Linked DNA regions of Homo sapiens. The protein of the gene in region 2 interacts with the protein of the main gene of each other region in a pairwise test. Each region holds a gene or a part of one and is shown on either strand. Other genes may lie near its edges. The genes, in order: PRKAA2, IKZF3 and TRAPPC6A.

Region 1 (3,655 bases), on a different chromosome or scaffold from region 2:
GTCTCAAAAAAAAAAAAAAGATTACTTTCATATCAGTAAACACACTGAAATCACTAGTATTTCTAATAAACATGGGTTAAAACTGGTAGAATTCAGCACATTTTATAATAAGAAATGAAAGATTGAGGCATCCAAGTAAATGTTGGAAAAGTAAAAATATAAATTTTAATCATCTATATATGGCATTTCAAAAAACGTTATTTATCTCTAAATATGGACTGAAAGACATTTAAATCTTATTTTCTCAATTCTGATAAATATGAGCAGACATAGAAAATTATATCCTTGTAGGTTTGAAACTCAGAACATACTAGGCATTTTGACTTTACAGTCCATAGAGCAGAGACTTTGCAGTCTGAGAACCCTGAATTTGATTGCTAGCTCTACCACTTAATAGCACTGGAACTTTGGACAAGTTACTTAAAGTATCTGATTCTCAATTTCTTCATTTGTTAAATGGAGATAATACCAAACTTAGAGGATTACTCTGGGAATAAAAAAAAATCAAGTGCATATATCATACAGTGATTAGAATATAGTAACAACTTAATCAAATTGTACCTTTTATCACTGAAGTATTGAAAATATGTTTCCTTTTCCCCTGTTCTACATTACATCTACATTTCAGACTCAGGAACTCAAATTTTCATTAACCAGGATGAATAATTAAATATACCCATTTTTTTGGAGTTAAATCTTTTAAAAATCGGTTTAATGATAGCATTGTAAAGGACCTCACAGATTCGCTACTCCAGTGTTATCCTTTAGGAGGGGAAGAAAACAAGGCCCAGGGAGTTAAATTGTTCAGGGCTTCCACACTAGCACACAAGTCAAGCAAGGGACCAAAATACCACAGACATAACTTTTAGCTCCATCAATTGATGGGACAGTTGTGTGAAATTTGATTTATCATTTAGGACTTGATATTTACATTTCAAAATAAGGTAACACTTTTTGTTTGTTTGTTTAAGTTTTGGTTTATCCTTCCTGTTATCTCAAAAACAAGTGGGGAATTAGTAAAATATTTACTTAATTTATTGAAAGCAGTCTGTAGGCCAGTCATGTAACTATTTGAAAAATGGAAAGGGTAACTTCTTCGTGAGACTTTGCCGACAAGAAAGAACCTAAGTATCCCTTGGTGTACAATTCCAATGAAGAATATTTATTTCATAAACCACATATGGGTAAACATATTTCTGGAGTAAAATGTTGAAAAAAATTTGTTTAAATCATAAACCACATATATACTACTACTCATCTTGAAAATGCAGGCTTCTTTTTAAATAAATAATTAGCACTATAATTTTGTTTCTTCAATCAGTCTTTATATAACACAAACAACAGGACCATTCTTCTAGAATTTCTATCACCTTTAGAGAAGTTAGATAAGAAATGAACAAGTCTAATTACAAGAACTCTCTAACAGTTTTACCCTACCCAGAGTGAGAGCCTAAACAGTCAATATAGAGAAAAATTTTAAATAGATAAAAAGCATTACTTTTAAACTCTGTCAGCCCATATAATCTGTTTCCAAAAACAGTCCCTCAGCAACCTGATAATACAATAGACTAATGAAGGACAAAATTTAAAACATTTTAAATAAGGCTTTATTAACAAATACAAAGATTTCCATATACTTTTAAAAAACAAATTAAAACTACTGCTGTTAAAACTATTCCATTTTCAATTTTTGCTTTTTGTCCCTAACTTTGGTCCATAAATTGATATATCAACAACTGAAGTTAAAATTTCTTTATTTCTTTTTTTTTTTAAGACGGAGTCTCGCTCTGTCACCCAGGCTGGAGTGCAGTGGCACAATCTCGGCCCACTGCAACTTCCGCCTCCCGGGTCCAAGTGATTCTCCTGCCTCAGCTTCCCAAGTAGCTGGGATTACAGGCGCGCACCATCACAGCTGGCTAATTTTTGTATTTTTAGTAGAGATGAGGTTTCACCATGTTAGCCAGGTTGTTCTCAAACTCCTGACCTCAAGTGATCCACCTACCTCGGCCTCCCAAAGTGCTGGGATTACAGGCGTGAGCCGCCGTGCCTGGCCTAAAATTTCTAAATCTATAATTAGCATAACAGTCAAAGTTGGGCATGGTGGGACACATTTGTAATCCCAACACTGTGAGGCTGAGGCAGATAGACTGCTTAAGGCCACAAGTTTGAGAACAGCCTGGTCAACATAGTCCCTAAAAAAAACTAATTAATAAACAAATAAGAAAAAGGAAAAAAGTCAAGAGAGAAAGCACATAAAATGTTCCTTACTTCTCCATTTCCATGTTTTTATAACCATTTATCTAACTATCTATCTATCTATCTATCTTTCTATCAATCAATCAATCAATCAAAGACAGGGTCTCCCTATGCTGCCCAGGCTGGTCTTGAACCCCTGGGCTCAAGGGATCCTCCTGCCTTGGTCACCCAAAGTGCTAGGATTACAGGCATGGACCACCACACCTGGCCAAGCTTTTAAAATTACATCATCTCCTATTAGCTTTTTTAGTAGAAATTCATTTTGCAATGTCTAAAATCTACAACAATTAAAAATGCACCTGCATTCAACAAAAACTGCTGAGACAATTGGTTATCCACATGGAAAAAGTTAACCTTACAACCTCATCTCACACCATACATAAGAATTAACTCAAAATAGATCACATAGTTAAACATCAGGGCTAAAATAATAAAATATTTACAAGAAAACATAAAAGAAAATCTTTGAGACTTGGGCTAGGCAAAGATTTCTTGCCTATGACATCAAGAGCATAGTCCATAAAATAATTTTAAAAACTAATAAATTGGACCTCATGAAAATTCAAAACTTTTATACTTCAAAAGACACAAGAAAATGAAAAGACACAACAGACTGGAAGAAAATATTTGCAAAATATATCCATTAAAGGATCTGTATCCACAATTTACAAAGAATCCTCACAACTCAACTTATAAGATGACAAGTAACCCAATTAGAAAATAAGCAAGAGATATAAACAGACATTCCATCAATGAAAATACATAAATGACTAGTAATTACGTGAGACAATGTTCAACATCATTAGTCCTTAGGGAAACGCAAAATTAATGCCTCAATGAGATACTATTTCGCACCCACTAGAATGGCTATAATAAATCAGGCAGACAATAACAAATGTTGGCAAAGATACTCAGAAAAGGGAACTTTCATACATCTTTGATGGGAATGTTATAAAATGGTGTGACCATTTTGGGAAAGTGTTGCAGTTTCTCAAAAAGTAAAACATAAAACTACGATATGACCCAGCAATTCTACTTCTAGTTATTTACCCAAGGTGTATGAAAACATATGTCCACACAAAGACTTACATGTGAATATTCGTAGTGCCATTATTTATAATAGCCCAAAACTTGAAACCATGACCATCAACTGGTTTTGTATAGACAAAATGTGGCATATCCACACAATGGAATATTATTCAACTATAAAAAGGAACAAATTAATGGCACATGCTATGTCATGCATGAATCTCAAAAGCATTGTTAAAGAAGCTCGACACAAAAGATGACATATTGAACGATCACGTTTATGAAGAAGAGCCTAGAAAAAGCAAATTTATACAGGCAGAAAACAGATTAGTGATTTCCTGGGACTGAGGGTAGAAATGAGATTAACTGT
Region 2 (3,655 bases):
GCAGACGGAGAGCAATTAGTGCCTTAATGGTCGTGTAATTAGCCCTAGAGGTCTCTGCTGTTGTAACCCTTCAGAACAAGAATGACAGATTGAAACCTTCCTACTTAACTCTTTCTAGTTTCCACACTGGGCTCTGAGGAATGCACTTCCTAGACAAGGAATGCTCATTTCTCTCACTTACCAGAATGTGTCCTAAGATGCCCCGTGAGCGCATCTCTTCTTTGGCATGCATAGTTGCAGAGGTGACACTTAAAAGGTTTTTCCCCTGTGTGCAGTTTAATGTGGCGGAGGAGGTTACCTTTCTGAGTAAAAGATGCCCCACACTGATTACACTGGAATGGGCGTTCACCTTTAAAAAGGACAAAAAAGGAGATTTCTGGTCACAGGCAAGTGGAGAAACATATGCACAGATTAGATGCCTAGGGGAAAAGCTCATCTTTTAGACAATTACTGTTCACATTGGGATCAGTTGGGAGCTGCATTTCAAGGCAAGCCTAAGACTTACTTATGAAATCTCCTCTGTAGAAGAGAAAAAGCACCCACTAGCAAGGCTATTTTAGGTATCATATTGAATCAGAGCAAAGAAACAAGAGCAGCTCTAGAAGTGCTTTCTAGATCTAAGTTTTTATATTACTATATTACTTGGTACTCCCTTTTTTTTTTTTTTTTTTTTTTAGACAGGGTCTTCTTGCTCTGTTGCTCAGGCTGGAGTGCAATGGTCCCATCATGGCTCACTGAAACCTTGACCTCCTGGGTTCAAGTGAGCCTGTCACCTCAGCCTTCAGAATAGCTGGGACTACCAGTGTTTGCCATTATGCCTGGCTAATTTTTTAGTATTCCTTTTGAATATAATCTCCTTTGAAAAAAGAGCCAGAAACTAAAGTCCTTACAAGGTGTTGAGGGCTAGAAATTCTCCTTTTTAAAGTCTTCATATGAGATATGGGATGGAATCGACTGGCTCAAGTGCGATGGTTGTGTTTGTATGCATTTCTATAGACTACCTGTTTATTGTCTGAAGATACATTATTTTAAGCTGGAAATAAAAACTATGTCCTTTCATTTACCAAATTTGAACCCAATACAATAAGAAGATCTGCTCTTATTAAAAATGTTATGCAAAAATATACAAAAGATGGCTAAGAAGCAAATCACACAATTCAACTCCTACTTAGAAACTGAAGAAAAAGTATTTGGCTGACCTAGAACACTGTGCTCTCTACAGTCTTTTTTTATTCATAGCATTTGCAATATGTTTGCCAAATGCATGGTGAGGCAGGAATAAAAAGCACTGAGTGAACAGCAATGCAGAGAGAGAGATACATCAGCATTATAGCAAAAATCAATGAAAGTAACCAAAAGTTCCAAATTCCACCACTTCATTTCTCACGTGGCTGCATTAGGAGAGTTTTCAGAAGAATGAAAAAAGCAGACTATTTACCAGTATGGCTTCGCTTATGAACCATTAAGACATTGAAGCTGATGCAGGATAATCCACACACATCGCAGTTCATCTTTCCACTGGTTGGCCTGCTACTATCGAATGAGACAACATGTCTCTCCAACTTAATGTTTTCATATTCATTATATTCTCTTGAATAGCTGTAAGGGATTTCAGGCTCTTCTGCATTTCCCATGGGTTCTGACTTTAAAACATTCTCATCTCTTTCACTGTATTCATCTTTCACTTTCATTGAATCATCTGCAGGGAAGAAAATGCAAGAAATGAACAACGACTATACTTGAAGCTATCAAAGCAGCTCAAACAGCAGAGACCCACAACTGACAATTAAATACCAATCGAAGCTAACAAAACACTGTACATCTACAAAACAAGAAAGCACCATTAGCGTGACCGCACGTTATTTAAATTCAGAACCACAGTCAGAGGAAAACACACATACTTACACACATAAAAATAGACGATAGTGTTTTAGGCTATCCAGAAAATTACAGATAATAGATTTTAGCTAAGTTTGCTCAAAGTGGCCATGAAACAAACATTGAGCAACTCTTCTCCAGTACTAGGGGAGAGGAAGGGTTCTCAGATCTAGTACTGTTTTTGGTGGCTGCAGTTAAAAAGGCAAGGTGATGTACTCTTAGGTTTCAAGGAGAAAATATTGTTTGAATCCTTCAGATGCATCCAGTGTAAGCCATTAAGATTAAGAGTTGACTAGTTAACATAGTTTTTCTAATTTTAAGCCATGCATTGCCTCTTCCCCTTCCACGTATATGAATTGCTAAAACACATCTTATCTCTGTCTCTCTTGGAGCTGATAAAGGCACAACATTGACTGTAGAGGAAGTTGTCAGTACTAATGAAAAAGTGTTGAGAAAGACAAAAGGAAAAGTAATTCTTTCATATAACCTAAGGAGTCACTTTCATCGACACAGGTAAGTGGGGCTCAATCTAAATAAGGGGAAGGACCATTAGGTCCCAAGTTAGGGAGAACTAAACTCAAGGACTCAAGGATTGTGTAATAGGACTGGATAGGAGAGGAGGGACTGGCTCAAGTGAGTTGGCTGACCAAGTACTATCTTAAGAACTGCAATGTAAATGAATGAAATTTAAAAGAAGAGCTGTAATACTCTTCATGAAGAGCATAAGAACATATGAAGAACGTGGGAAAAATATGAAGAACATAAGAAACAAAGAAGGCAAATTTATGTACTTGCACTGACACTAGTAAAACCTAAAAATTTGCCTGATGTAAGAATAATAAACATTTGTAAGGGATTTTGCATATATAAAATATGCTATATAAATGCTTACTTTTTCAACCATTGGTCCTTAGAAATCAAAAGTTGTACCTCCCCATGAGGAATCACAAATCAATGGAGTGTAGGGCTGGAAGGGAATTTAAAGGTCATCTAATCCAACCCTCTTGTTTCTCAGATGAGGAAATCTGGGAGCAGAGATGTTTTTGGTCATTTGTCGAAGGTTACACATCCAGTTACTGGCAGAGGTGTGATTAGAATGCAAAACTTAAGCTTGAACTATCAATTACTTGGATTTGACCTCATGCACTAGACATATAAGGCCTAAGTGGGTTCTTACCAACTGTATTACACACCCTCCCATCAATGGTGTAAATGTTAAAACCCAAAACAGTCTGAAAAAAGATATTTTAAAAAACTACATCCCTTCCAAAAAACATCAGTAAGTGTTGCTCCTCTTGCTGCATAGGAGGAAGTACAACTGCAGCTGTGCCTGGCTTGCTACCTTCAACCCAAGTTTCAATTTTCACTTCTATCAAGGTTACCTTTCATCTATATTAACTGTGTTTGCTTAATAGAGCAAGACAGGGCCTAACCACCATCAGAGGAGCCAGGGCTGCCACACAGTTCCACTGCTTCCTACCACAGTTCATGGTTCACAACTTTTCACTCTTTGACTAGCAAAGATGTAGGGCTGTAGGATAAGTCCAACATGTTTCAAATTTGCCCACCCTATGGATCTGGATTATATAAGAAATGATATCTGTTTCCTACTTGGAAAGAGGTTTACTTCTTTCTCTGGATAGGTCTTCCCTGCTTTCAAGTGGAATTTGTTTGCTTAAGTGTTTATTTTTTATTTTTTTAAGAGAAGGATGCACCTGAGGCTTGTACTTGCCTCCCTTCCTCCATCACTCCAGCTGTGGGTAATATCCCACCAAAG
Region 3 (3,057 bases), on a different chromosome or scaffold from region 2:
TCCCTAGAAGGCCAGGGGAGAGATGCTCAGGGGCCCTTAGCCACCACGAACCCGGGGCCACCCAGGGGGGGACCTGCCAGGGGACCCAAAGACCAACTTGCTGGTGCTCGTCAGTTCAGGGGTGAGCAGGGAGGGGCTCTGGCACAGCCCGGCCAGGGCAGGGGCAGGCCTCTAGGGTGCTGGGGCTCCCTCACCCACCTCTGCAGACCTTGCAGGCTCTCTGGATCCCCAGATCATCAGCCCCCAAGAACCAGCTCCCCCTTCCCTCAGGAACAATGGGGGTCTTCCCCAGGCTCCCTTCCTCCTCCATGACTTTTCCTGATAACCCCCATGACAGGCTGCACGTGCTTTCAGCGCGAACCCTCACAATGCCCTGGGAAGTGGGCGCTGCGACTCCACCAAGATGCTCCAGGTGACCTGCCCAAGGGCTGGAGGCTGGGCCACAGGAAAGGGGGCTGTGGAAGTCAACCATGATCATCATGCCTTATAATATTGGCCAAGATCCCTGGGGAACACGTGGAAGCTCGGGACAGGCAGATCTTCGTTTGGGTGCTCGAAAAGGACAGTGGCTGCCATGTAGTGTCTGGAGGGTAGGCCAGGGTCCATACAGGAGGGGACTGTGCTGGCAGAGGCAGGCCCCAGGTAGGAGGGCTGCACTCGGTGTCTGTCCACGTGCCTGTGTGTGTGGAGGGCATGGCTGGAGGAGAGGAGATGCTCATGGATTTTTTTTTTTTTAAGAGATGGAGTCTAGCTTCATTGCCCAGGCTGGAATGCAGTGGCCCAATCTCTGACTCACTGCAACCTCCGCCTCCCGGGTTCTAGCAATTCTCCTGCCTCAGCCTCCAGAGTAGCTGGGACTACAGGGATACGCCACCACACCCTACTAATTTTTTGTATTTCATTAGAGACAGGGTTTCACTGTGTTGCCCAGGCTGGTCTCGAACTCCTCAGCTCAGGCAATCTGCCCGCCTCGGCCTTCCAAAGTGCTGGGATTACAGGCGTGAGCCACCGCGCCTGGCGAGTTTTCTTTTTTGGAGACAGAGTCTCACTCTGTTGCCTAGGTAGAGTGCAGTGGTGCAATGCTGGCTCACTGCAACCTCCGCCTCCCGGGTTCAAACAATTCTCCTGCCTCAGCCTCCCGAGTAGCTGGGATTACAGGCCTGTGTGCCACCACACCCGGCTAATTTTTGTATTTTTGGTAGAGATGGGGTTTCACCATGTTGGCCAGGCTGGTCTCAAACTCCTAGCCTCAAGTGATCCGCCCGCCTTGGCCTCCCAAAGTGCTGGGATTACAGGCAAAAGCCACTGCACCTGGCCATGGATCTTTTTTTTTTTTTTTTTCATTCGGGTGTTTTGCTGCAAGCAGAGGAAGGGAGGAGGCCCAGACTGGGGGGCACCAGAAATCCCAGGACGGCTGGGGCGTGAGGCGCCAGGTTTTTCAGAGAAAGCCTGGCAGAGCAGAAGTGGGGGAACAGAGGCGGCAGGTGTGCAGCCCTGAGCTGAAGGAAGCTCACCCTCCCGCTGGCTGCTCTCAGGAGCCTGCAGTCACCAGGCCTGAGCCCTGCAGCCCTCCCTCTCCTGCCCTTGACCCCCACCTTCCCTTGGGAATGGCAGCTACCGCCTCCTCCCTCCAGGGCTGCACCATCAGCGCAGCCATCCGAATGGGGATGCGAATTCTCTGCTTGGCTCCAGCCCTGGAGCGGGTCTCCCAGCCTGGAGAGCGTGTCCGAGGAAGGCTTCTTGCAGCCTGCGGGCCCAGCTGCCTCCATCCCTCCCTCACCCTCTCCTCTGCCCCCTGAGGACATTCGCTCAGACTTCTGAGCCTTTGTACCGACTTCCTTCCCTTCCTCCCTCCCAGCTTGCGTCCCCAGCCCTGCCCACTGCACACTGTCCCTGGATGAGGACACAGCTCTGTGAAGGTGGGGACCCAGGCTGACCAATTCACATCCGGCCTTCAGCAGCCAACACAGAGCTTGGCATGTGGGTGGTGCTTAACAGACTGGCTGATGAGACAACGTGCATCAACAAAGGACACCGTAAGTCCTTACCTAATGCTGTCAACAGGCTCTTGGAAACTATGGCTTTAAGCAAAATGACATATGATGAAACCAATTTCACGCAGGTTAATTAACATAAACAAGAGTGAAGTTCCAATGCCATATTTCTGGTACAAACACATCACCAAACTTCTAAATAAGGATGAAAACACTTGAAATATTAAACACTGAAATAAATGTGAGCTATACATACGTTTAAGAAAGATTAGGCCGGGCGCAGTGGCTCACTCCTGTAATTCCAGCACTTTGGGAGGTCGGAGTTTCGCTCTTGTTGCCCAGGCTGGAGTGCAACGGCGCGATCTCAGCTCACCACAACCTCTGCCTCCCGGGTTCAAGTGAATCTCCTGCCTCAGCCTCCCCAGTAGCTGGGATTACAGGCATGAGCCACCACGCCCGGTTAATTTTGTATTTTTAGTAGAGACAGGGTTTCTTCTCTTTTGGCCAGGCGGGTCTCGAACTCCCAACCTCAGGTGATCTGCCCACCTCGGCCTCCCAAAGTGCTGGGATTACAGGCGTGGGCCATCGCGCCCAGCTGAGTCCAGGAGTTCGAGTCCAGCCTGGTCGACATGGCGAAACCCCTTCTCTACAAAAAATACAAAAGTTAGCCAGGTGTGGTGGCATGCACCCGTGTCCCAGCTACTTGGGAAGCTGAGGCAGGAGGATCATCTGAGCCCAGGAGGTCGCTACTGCAGTGAGCCATGATCATGCCACTGTACTGCAGCCCAGGCAACAGCAAGACCCTGTCTTTTTTTTTTTTTTTTTTTTTTTTTTTGAGACAGAGTCTCGCCCTGTCGCCCAGGCTGGAGTGCAGTGGCGCAATCTCGGCTCACTGCAAGCTCCGCCTCCCGGGTTCACGCCATTCTCCTGCCTCAGCCTCCTGAGTAGCTGGCACTATAGGCACCCGCCACCACGCCCAGCTAATTTTTTTGTATTTTTAGCAGGGACGGGGTTTCACCATGTTAGCCAGGATGGTCTTGATCTCCTGACCTCGTGATTCACC

Evidence for each region.
Region 1: the proteins of IKZF3 (region 2) and PRKAA2 interact in binary tests that used the Homo sapiens proteins (3 or more experiments, as listed by UniProt).
Region 3: the proteins of IKZF3 (region 2) and TRAPPC6A interact in binary tests that used the Homo sapiens proteins (3 or more experiments, as listed by UniProt).

Annotation. Positions count from the first base shown.
Region 1 is NC_000001.11:56,648,211-56,651,865, reverse strand, and holds part of PRKAA2 (5'-AMP-activated protein kinase catalytic subunit alpha-2), read right to left. Parts: intron 1-3,655. UniProt on the Homo sapiens protein: Catalytic subunit of AMP-activated protein kinase (AMPK), an energy sensor protein kinase that plays a key role in regulating cellular energy metabolism.
Region 2 is NC_000017.11:39,791,235-39,794,889, forward strand, and holds part of IKZF3 (zinc finger protein Aiolos), read right to left. Parts: intron 1,700-3,655; coding exon 1,439-1,699; intron 350-1,438; coding exon 182-349; intron 1-181. UniProt on the Homo sapiens protein: Transcription factor that plays an important role in the regulation of lymphocyte differentiation. Plays an essential role in regulation of B-cell differentiation, proliferation and maturation to an effector state.
Region 3 is NC_000019.10:45,165,192-45,168,248, forward strand, and holds part of TRAPPC6A (trafficking protein particle complex subunit 6A), read right to left. Parts: intron 4-3,057; coding exon 1-3. UniProt on the Homo sapiens protein: May play a role in vesicular transport during the biogenesis of melanosomes.